Regions from separate parts of the Homo sapiens genome. Here region 2 is linked to region 1. Evidence: fine-mapped expression QTL. A gene starts in region 1. The other region holds a variant in brackets. All regions are shown on one strand. Distances are from middle to middle.

The links.
Region 2: its variant is fine-mapped to the expression of DLC1 in fibroblasts (GTEx, PIP above 0.99).

The regions. Positions count from the first base shown.
Region 1 is chr8:13,512,263-13,517,650 of GRCh38, forward strand. It overlaps DLC1 (DLC1 Rho GTPase activating protein), which reads right to left and starts at 2,589. Exons shown (of 18, transcript NM_182643.3): 1 at 2,340-2,589.
Region 2 is chr8:13,364,489-13,369,876 of GRCh38, forward strand. All of the region lies in intron 4 of DLC1 (DLC1 Rho GTPase activating protein), which reads right to left. Among named protein-coding and RNA genes, the nearest start is that of DLC1, 150 kb to the right of the region's middle. RefSeq lists an enhancer at 1,847-3,046. The variant G/C (reference allele first, on the strand shown) is at 2,378.

The DNA.
Region 1 (5,388 bases):
CTCTCTAAGGAAATGGCAGCTATTAGAAATGGAATGTGTTACATTTATGAGAAAGGGTCTTGTCTGAGAAGGTATACTGCTTCAGCACACACAGCAACAAATATTGTCATATATGAAGTATGATGCAGATGAAATAGCCCACGCTCCCATTTTATACCACGTTGTTCAGACATTTATTTATATACTGTAAAAATTCTGCATTCTACAATTAAATGACTTTGTAGAAGGCTTAGAGCAGACATACAAATCAATTAAGGGATTGCAAACATGCTGGAGAAATGTAAACATATTTTTTATATGTCAACTTAGGCTTTTTATATATTTAGTGAAAAGACCCACATAGAACTTGAAATAAGCTACAGCAACAATGATTTAGGCTAGATAGAAGAAAGGATGCCTGGGGGTGGTGCTGTAAAATTGCCTCTGAAAGTCATTGGTTGGGACAGTTTCATTATGATCATTTGAGTACAAGGATATAAATTAGAAAAGCTGTTTTCTAGCCCTATTTTTAAAGAAACATCAGATTAAAATTAATATAATTATTAGCATATGGATTGATTTTCTTGACATAAACATCAAATATAATAAAATAGTCATAAAGCAAGTTACTACTGTAAAGTGTTTATTGAAGGCATACTGATTTGATTTTTTTTTAAAGTTAGGATTTTTTTCCCCACATAATTAACATTGGTGACAGTTTTACCTTTTTTTTTTTTTTTTTTTAAATTAGAGGAACTGCAAATTTCTGTCTGCAAAGCACCCTTCTACTGGACATGTTCATACTTCATTATGCATAATTATTATGGGAGGGCAGGATGATGGGATAAAAAGGTATCTGAATTATGAATCAGGGCACTGTGGTTCTGCTGTCCTCTCTTCTATTAGCTAGAGGTGTGACCTTGGACAGGTCACTTTTAAATCCCATTTCTCAGCTTCTTGTAGACAACCTCAAGCCATTGTTAGAGGAGACCATCTCTTATGTTCTTTCCTTCTCTGAAATTCCATTTGGAGATTTTAATTAAATCATAATTTAGATAAGTCAGTATTTTATCTTCCACATATATAAAAAGTAGATTCTTTTTCTCATATTTAAGAAGTTTTAACACAAATTGTCAGTGAATAGTTAAAATTTATCAATATAAGTTATTCTAGCATAAAATTTGAGAATAGCTAATATAGCAGATGGTCACCTTGTACTATATAAAAACTTATAATGAAAACAGTTACTTCATTTCTTATGATCCAACTGTCAAAATAGCTCTCCATCTTTCACTTAGTATATTTTGTATTCATCTAATAGATTTGAAAATGTACATGAATATTTCTTCCCTTTATGTACCATTTTATTTCTATAAAATGATGAATTTTATTATAAATATTCAGAAATATAACAGTATCTTATGCATTATAAGTCCACACTTTTTCGGTCATTACTAAACTTCTTTTCTAATATATTGTACATTTAAACATTTAAGATTACCTTGAAGAGACTACAGTCAGGTGGAAATGTAATTTTACGATTACATAAGTAAGGACACAAACAGTTTCCATATGACTGGAGTGATTTCTGGCTGCCTTAAAAGAGTTATAATGAGTGTCAGTGTCATTGAGATTGACTTCAGTTATTCAAAATATTACACAAAATGTGACCGGAGCAAGCAGTGAATCCAGGAAAATTAATATAAACTAAATTCGATTCCGACATTTAAATTTCCAAAACTCAGATTAAATACTATTTAGGACAGAAATAATTCCTGAAATTTCACGTGTTTACTTTTTTTTTTTAAATGAACCTTTTAAGCTGTACAGGAGAAGCTTGACATATGATTGAAACTGGCTTGGGTAAAATAATAAGAAATTCAATCTTCGTAGTTTTAAATGAGACACAAAATACTCTTTGGAGACTGATTATTAAGCACAAGTCACTCGGGTGCTTTCTACTCTCCCTGTTGGCAAAGGAAGGTAGGGGAGGAATTCATTTACACCTCACACTGATGTGTGAGAAAATGTATTTGTTTCACGTTATGCCAAGAAATAGGAAAACTGATCCGACAGCTCAATTAATAAATAAGTTAAACGTAAAAAGGGATAAAAATAAAATCTTACTTTATGGAGGAAAAGAGTTAAATCTATATGGAGCCTGTTTTAGAACTGACAGTTTGCTAAAACGAATTGACTCAGAATTTTCTACTTATCAAACATTTTCCACTTCTGATTTTATGGCTTTGCTCTAAAACCTAGGAAGTCACCAACTCCGTGCAAGATGCTAACATTTATCTCAATCTTTCTGCCTCTTCAAAGACCGCCTCAAAGCATAAAGATAGTCCATAGCGTCTTACCTAGACAACGAGGAGCTGAAACGCCAAGGCATGACACTGCTCAACACTCAGGCTAGGAAAGAAGTCCGTCCCCGTTAGTTTCTCCAAAATCTAAGTTCCCATTTCGTGGTTGAGATCATGGCTCTATTCTGAGCAGTTTCACGCAGTGTGTGAGTCTAACAAAAACACCCTCTGCAGCTGGAGGGAGCCTTAGCTAAGGCAGGATCCTGTCAAGGCATTCCTAGTGACTTCTGTCTACTAAATTCAGACTGAGGTTTTGCAAAAGGGGCCTCCACAACCAGGCCCAGATTGCCTGGAAAGTATTTCCTGCCTCTGAGGAGTGTGCATGCTAGAAAGGCTGTACGAAGAGAGGGGAGGAGGGGAGAGCCCAGCCGCCTGGGCGTTTTAGGAGTTCTGATTTTACACAGAACTCAAGTGAGTTTTGTCAAAGCTCTTGAGGTGATTAGCTGTAGAGTCATAAAGTCCTAGAGCTTTTTCTATCCCACACTGCTTATGAAAAAAGAAAGAAAGAAAGAAAGAAAACGTAGTTTTCTCTCTATCCACAACCTTTCCACTATATTAAATGTATATGCACAGCTTAATCAAAATGCCTGTGCTTGCTCTCATTTCAAAAGATCTTTTAAGAGAGCAAGATGAATTTAGCCTTAATACCATAATTCTTCTAAATGGCAAAACCTTTTTTGAACATGACTTAAAATTGGAAATGCTGCAGCTTTTCATTCTGTCCCTGAGACCATCTGTAAGTAAAATCCCAAGCATCCAGTTAATAGAACGATTTCTTCCAGATCTCTCTGATCACAAGAATCCTTCACAGAATTAAAATAGTTCGTGTTATGGCAAATGCAGCAGCGCATTACCTCTAGTCAGAATCCTCCAGTTACAAAAATCCAGTGCTGGAGCAGAAGACAGGCTCCATCTTGATCGTATTAGAGTCTTGCTGACATTAAACACTTACAACTGCTTCCATCTAGCATGGCAGCGTTCCTGAATCACATCTCTAAAGCCGCTCATGGTATCTGCATCCTTCGTCCGTCACAAATTTTGTGAACTATCATCTGTTTATCTTTTCTGCTTTCTTGTGCCTCCCTTGAATGACTTCCTCCTAGCTGCTCCAGGTTGGGAATTTGGACTACCATTTGGTTTTGATTAAAACCAGACAGGCAACTCTGGAGAATTTAGGGAATAAGCTAATGGAAACTGCAAGTATGGCTTTAATTAGTGCATCAATTAATAATAGATGTTAGCTCGTCTTATAATAAGATATCACAAATACAAACACAGAGGAAGCTGAAGTCGTTTCAGGAAAAAAGTTACACCAATTTTCCTTCCTTTATGACCCAGAATCCTCTTTAGAGAATGTGGAAGGAAAGAAGAGGGAGGTGGTTTTGGGACATCCAGGCTGTGGAGAGGCCAGTAGAGCAGCTTCATTGTTTATACCAGGGAAGCAGGAAACAGCATCTCTGACTTTAATTATCTTGCTTGGTGGAAATGGCTCAGTCATGTCTCCCTTCTACTTTATTTACAATCAATGGATTTCGCTGCTATTTATGACTCAAGCATTTTTTTGGGGGGGGACTGATGATCAGATTAATTATTAGGTCTATCTGCTTCTTGCAAATTTCTAGAAGCTTTCAATAATAGGAAGTGCAAGAATAATTCCAGTTGGATGTGATAAAATGAGTAACATATAAAGAGGTAAAAGACATCTTAAACTTGTTGGCCCTAAGATCTATCCTGTTCTTCTCTGAAATTGTAAGTAGTTTTCATTGTTCACTGTTATTCTCCATCCCTGTATATCACAAGGGCTATCTTGTAGTACTTTTTGATAATATTGGGTAGGTGATAACTCAAAGATGCACAAGGTTCTAACTACTATTTTTTTCCTTATTAGGTAGCTAAAATCTCTCAAAGTTAATGCAAATCATGAACCATATTAGACCCATGTTAGATGGCAAGAATGACTTATACTGTGCATGAGTTTGAAGATGAGAAGTAGTCAAATAAAAACGTTTGGTCAGAAGCAGCTTTAAAAGTTTAGATCAAAGTCTTATTGACTAAAAACATGAGCATTTAGGTTTCTTTAATTTAATCTTCAACCATAGGCCAAGAAAGAAGTCTGTTCTTCCATAAATTCTTTAAAAAGTATTTATATTTATATTCAAAGTGTTTCTACTGACAGTATGCCTATTTAATCTTTCCAACAATTTTGCGTGTATTCATATGTTTTATTTTACAAATAAAGTATTGAGAAGCAATTTTCTCACAGTCAAATGATACAAAGTGCCCAGGTCCACACTGGAACTCAGATATTCTAGCTCCAAGCTTTGTGCTTTAATTTTTTCTCCATAAACTGCCTTCCTTGACTTCCACTTAATTTCTTTATTAAATTGGGAAGACTTCTTAAACTCTAATAGTTTCTCTTTAAAAATAGAGACAATTTCACATAACTTATAGATTGGAAAGCAGGATGAAATTTATATGCAGAAATATTTGTGTATTTATGTTTATTTCCCTAAGAAAAACACTGGAGAAGAAAGGAATGAGAACTGATATTATGTCTTTCCTAATATAACTTGATATCTCTATCTCTGTCACTGCCTTTAGTACTGATATACAGTGGTTACTCAATATTATATCAGCATCATGCTAATTCTTAGCTACATTTTATTCATGAATACTGTACCCCGCGCCATATACTTTAGTTTTGTTTCTATTTCTATTGGCTTGGGAAAACAAGAAAACTCTGTTCACAAATGCCTTTTAGATATCTAGAAACTCTTGTTAGTAAGTTTCTCATAAACATACCCTTTTCTACACAAAAAATACATTATGTTTTCTTCTATTAATAGGATTACTTCCCAAATCTTTAATTACTTATATTTATTTTTCATTGTTGAGTTGCTTGATTCCAAACAAATCTCAGATCTTATAGTCTTATAAAGGCTTTACCAAATATGAGTGTAAAGATAAATAGTGAGAAAACTTCCTAAGTACTTAGTATTGTGTCAGGAACACTGAAGGAGTTCAAAATATTTGTCCCCTTCTTTCT
Region 2 (5,388 bases), 150 kb before region 1:
ATTTCTCCATGTTGCTCAGGCTGGTCTCGAACTCCCAACCTCAGGTGATCCTCCCGCCTTGGCCTTCCAAAGTGCTGGGATTACAGGTGTGAACCACCACAGCAGGCCTGCATAATGATACTTCTATCTCCCCTTTTGTTTACTGACCCTACATACTGGTACATGAACCATGCAAGCACATAAGCTTACATGGATTCCCTTTTTTGGACTAGGAATAGGTGATTTTTAAAATTATCACATGCTATAGACATCTTTGTCAGCCTTTCAAAGACCAATCAAAACCAAACTTTTCCCCTAACTTAGTAAAAACATGTATATTTTAAGGAAAGTCGTCTCATATTTCTAACTCATTTACCCACAAACCATCAAAACAATAAAAATAAATTGCCAACTAAGAAACTCATTTGAGTTTATTAAAATATAATTGCAATGTTTGTTTTCTGTCCTTAAAAGGACCCTCATCTTTTGCCAAGGATTAAATTCTTGGTATGTTTGAGATTGCATGGTAAATCTTTGCCCACAGACTTGCAACACTTTCTTCAACTAGGACACGTGTCTTGCTGTTCTAATACTTCATTTACATTTAATCCAATCTGTATTCCCGTAGTATAGTCCTTAGAAATCAAATTCCATTTTAAATTTCCATGTCACAACCTCTATCCTGTTACTGGACTTTGCACAGGTCGAGAGAATACCCTGTAGGGATTCCTTTGTGGACTTAAATTAGGAGAAAAATACTTTGAGTTAGACTGATTATATCTATCCTTTAGAACAAAAGCATGCTAGGCTATTGAATGCAGTGAGTCAGATGTCCACAGGGCTTACTATTATCTAAGGTGCACGTGGAGCTGATCCACGCCTTTGGTGGTAAGTGACTGCACAGCTCCCCTCCCTTGAAGGAGGAACTACTGGCCTCAATTCACTTGCAGATACTATGATAGTTCCAGGATCTTCTGGAAAGTCAGGTGACCCTGTGCCTTTATCCTACTCTAGATGTGACCAGAGTTCAAACAGAAGACACCTGTGAATGCGTTGGAGGGACAAATGCCAGATGCATGAGATGTTACCAATTTCTCTTTTGAGAATGTTGGAGTCCACCTTGCTTAATGAAGCACTTACAGCACTTTCATTGTGCACCACTGAGCGAGCCGTGGTGAGACGGTGCTCCTTCTGGGTTTCCAGACATGTGTCATTTCCACTGCATATTTAGCAGCACATAACTGCCTGCAGTGGGGAGAGCGGAATGTGAGGCATGTCTCACCGAGGAATAGGGTTGTTATTTAAAAAAATTAAAAAAAATCACTCAACTGCTAATGGAAATGTCAACCTCTCAGCCCTATTCTTAAAAATAAATATATACAAGGAGTTCCCCATATGAGAGGCACCTAAGTGACCCAAGATATTCATTTCCCTGAAGTCACTCACAGCAGGCCTGTCTGGAAAAATGCTTTCATCTTCCGCAAAGAGAGGGGAAAATGTACCAGCCAGAAGGTTTAAAGACTAGGACTTTAGAAGGTGAAGTGGGAAAAGTGATCCTTCAGTCAGGTGAATTTGGACCAAACAAGATTAATTTCTATGCTTTCAGCTCAACAAGTGCTGCATAAAGACCACAGAATTATAGACTCGAAGAGAAGCCTCTACGGCTCGTCCAGCTAGCTGTTTAACACTGGGTTCCTCCTAGTCCTGGAATTCCTATTGGGAGCCCAGGGCTGAAGGGGCAGTGAAAATAGTAGGGCTTCCTATTGTTCCTGCCAGGACAACTCTGCTTTCATCTGCTTTCTGGATTGTAATCTACTTTAATTCATTGAGAAAATGTCTGTTGAGCATCCACTACATGCCTGGCGCTGTCCTAAGTATGATGATATCGTAGTGATTAAGATGGACACTGTCCATGGCCCCATGAAACTTGCAGTCTATGGAAGGTTCTTTGTGGGCACATGGTAGGTGTGTGAATGGGGAGGTTCTATGGTTAACACTATGAGTGATATTCTAGCCTTTGAGGATAAATAAACCCAACAAGTTAAAGCCCCACAGCAAATTAACAGAAAAGCTGGGGAAAGAACCCAGAGGTCTTGACTTATACTTCAGTGTTCTTGTTCCCAAGTTCAGACAAGAAGTTCAAACAACAAAAAATTTAGAAATCTGCTTGGTTAGAGCAGATATAAATTTTGGGCCAGAAACTTCCCCTGACTAGGTCTTCTCTCCATTTCTCTCCTTTCGGATGCCCTCTCAGGACTCAGTGAAGGCTCTATGCTCATCCTCAGACACAGGAAAGATCTTTCCAGACCAAGGTCTCCCTTTCCCCTCTGGGTCGAAGGCCACCCAGCTGTACTTTGTTCCAGAAGCTTTCCCATCAGTCATTCTCCCTTCTGGCCGG[G/C]CTCTCCCACACACACTCATCTCTGTGGAATTGCTGGGCTCTTGCATTCCTCGATGTGTTGCATCACTTCCTTCCTTCCTGTCTTGCGTGCATGGGGCACACTTTTCAACCCTCATTCCTGTCTACTCACTCTCCCAACCACGAACTTTGCCTCCTTTCCCTTTCCTCTCCATGTCTCCCTGGAGGCTGTATTCTGTATTTTATAATGCTAAAAATGAGAATAGAGGCCAGATGACACTCAGTGTATTTGTGTCTCTCTCCTTAAAATCCTTTACTCTTTTCTAATTTTGGGTTTCTACTTTAGTCCTGGTCACTCGTTCTGGCTGCTGTCATACCTTGGGTCTTGCAAGGCTAGATCTGATCAGTTTTACAAGGAGAAGGGGACCTGCAGGGTTTATAACTCAGGACGTGAAATGCATCTCACTCAATCCATCCAGATCATGAACTGTGAGGAAACCTAACACAGAGAACTGCTGGCAGTGATTCTACACTGTCCTTAAAGATCCTGTAGTACAGACAGCCTCCTGTTCTTAGGTGCTGCCTACATGTTAGCTTGCATATCTCAATCGTCATTAGGGGGCCCAATAGAAGAAAAGCAAAAAGCAGCCTCCACCTACCAAAGATCTTCCCATGAATTGTTTTTTTGTACAACCTTGTTTCTTGATTACAACAACAACAACAAAACAAAATAAGACAAAGACGTGCTTATTTGTTTTTGTGAAGGGTGTGTTTTCTTTACATAGTCTAGCACACTGAATCTTTCCTGTATCCTTTGAAGTCATCATATCAGGCACTTTGTGATGTTTAGTGAAATACTCTGTAGTAGAAGTGAAGTACTCTGCAGTTTATTCTTCTCTTTTGTGTTTTGTTTCATCTGAAATTGGTCAATTTCAGGATGAATTCTGCAGGTTTGGCCAGTCTGCCAGCACCAGGGCAAGGAAGTGAGACAGGAGAGGTTTCAAGAGATTCTTCAAGTTACATTTGCAAATGAGGATGAGATAGTAAGATTAGGACAAGAGCCTTGAGAAGTTTTTCGGCTTAGACAGGAATTTCACAGAAATAAACATAGACTCTCTTCAAATCCCAATTATGACCAATAATTGTGTGGGGTTTGGAAGAGTGTCTATACCTCTGGAGCTGGGAATGGTTTCTGGAATGGTGAAGTTCTGTGTTTAAAGCAGTGACTACATCTTTGACCCTGGCTTCAAGAGGCCCTTGTGTTCCAAACAGCTGAATTTAATCCAGTAATATGTAAAGTGGAAAAGAAAGTTAGAGCTCTTCTGTTGAAAGACATAATTGGGAATTTTTAAACAGATTAGATTTGACCCCCACTTTAAATTGAGAGATTAATGTCTCAAACTTGATAAAGGGCCCTCAGACACCATGTCTTCTATCTCCTAGGACAGTATATTTTCCATTACCAAACTCAAATTCATACGTTCCTTTCTTCCCTTCCCCCGCTTTCCATCCTTCTTTCTGGAAACTTGGCATCCTCTTCATAGTAAAGATGTCTGTTGTTGATTAAAGCATTGCCTTGCACCTCAGGCAGCAGCACAACAAGAAGGTCAAGTTCTCATTTGCCCCAAGGAAATCATGAAGGACTTGAGGTTGCTACAGTGAGATATTACCCAAGGGAAAACGCAAGCCAAGGCAGTTAAATTTTTTTTTTTTTTTCTGCATAGAAAAAAAAGTTCTTACAGAATGCCAGTGTTCTGTCAGAGAGAATTTTCCATTTGAGCCACAGTTATTTGTACCAAGTTGACATGCATCATTCCTAATAGGTTAACCTTGGCAGCCTGGTGGAAACACAGATACTCTGAGTTGTTAGGTGAAAGAGCCCTCACGGAAGGGAAGGATGTTTATGGTTTCCAGTTTCTAGAATAAACAAGTTTCTTCCAAGTAAGGATAAGTGATATGGATGTTAGTGATGTTCTTCCTGCTCAGTCCATCTCTGATGATGGTTATTTATTTATTTTAAGAGGGAGTCTCACTCTGTTGCCCAGGCTGGAGGGCAGCGGTGTGATCTTGGCTCACTGCCACCTCTGCCTCCTGGTTTCAAGCAATTCCCCTGCCTCAGCCTCCCAAGTAGCTGAGATTACAGGTGCTCACCACCATGCCTGGCTAATTTTTATATTTAGTAGAGACAGGGTTTCACCATGTTGGTCAGGCTGGTCTCAAACTCCTGACCTCAAATGATCTGATTGCCTCAGCCTTTGATGATGTTTAGAGAATAAGAACATTCAGGGCAGTGCTATGATTACACGGTTCACCTTATTTCCATTCATATGTCCATCCTGCATCCTCAATAGTCTGTAAGTGCCTACAGGCCTAGAGAACATGTGCTGTGTCTTAACCTTCTGTCTCTCTCCTGTCATGCCATAGAGTGGAGTTGTTGAATTTGGTTGAACTTCTAATAGATTCATTCTTTCTATTTAACCTATTGATACCTCCTTTCATAGTCTCGCACGTCCAGTATTTTTGGCTGGGTCGAAAAAAAAAAAAAAAAAAGATTACAAATGTTCTCACCAAAGTCATGAGAGGCTGCTTTTTCTTTTGTTGTTAAATCACATGGGCAATTTTCGGTTCTCATCTCCTCGTCTGAATGATTGTTTTCTGCAACAGTACTCTCTCCTAATTTTTTGGGCACTCCAATTCAGTTTCCTTTGATGAGTTCTCTCATTCTTCTAGTAGCTCGGGCAGAAGCCCTGAAGTCATCCCTGGCTTCTTTCTTTCTCTTATGGACAATGTTCAATTCATCAGAACCCCTGTTTTTTTCTCCCTTAAAAATACATCTAGAATAAGAACAATTTTACCAGCACTGCTGCTAGCTACTTCCTTGGTCCAGACACCATCCTCTCTGGCCTGGAGGGTTACACTTGCCTCCTGCCTGGTCTCCTGGATCCCCCTTCTTGTGCCCATAAGCTGTTCTCAACACACAGCCAAAGTGGTCCACTTGAACCCCAAGTCGGCTCTCCGATCGTCTCCTCAGAGCCCTCCCCTGGCTTCTCATC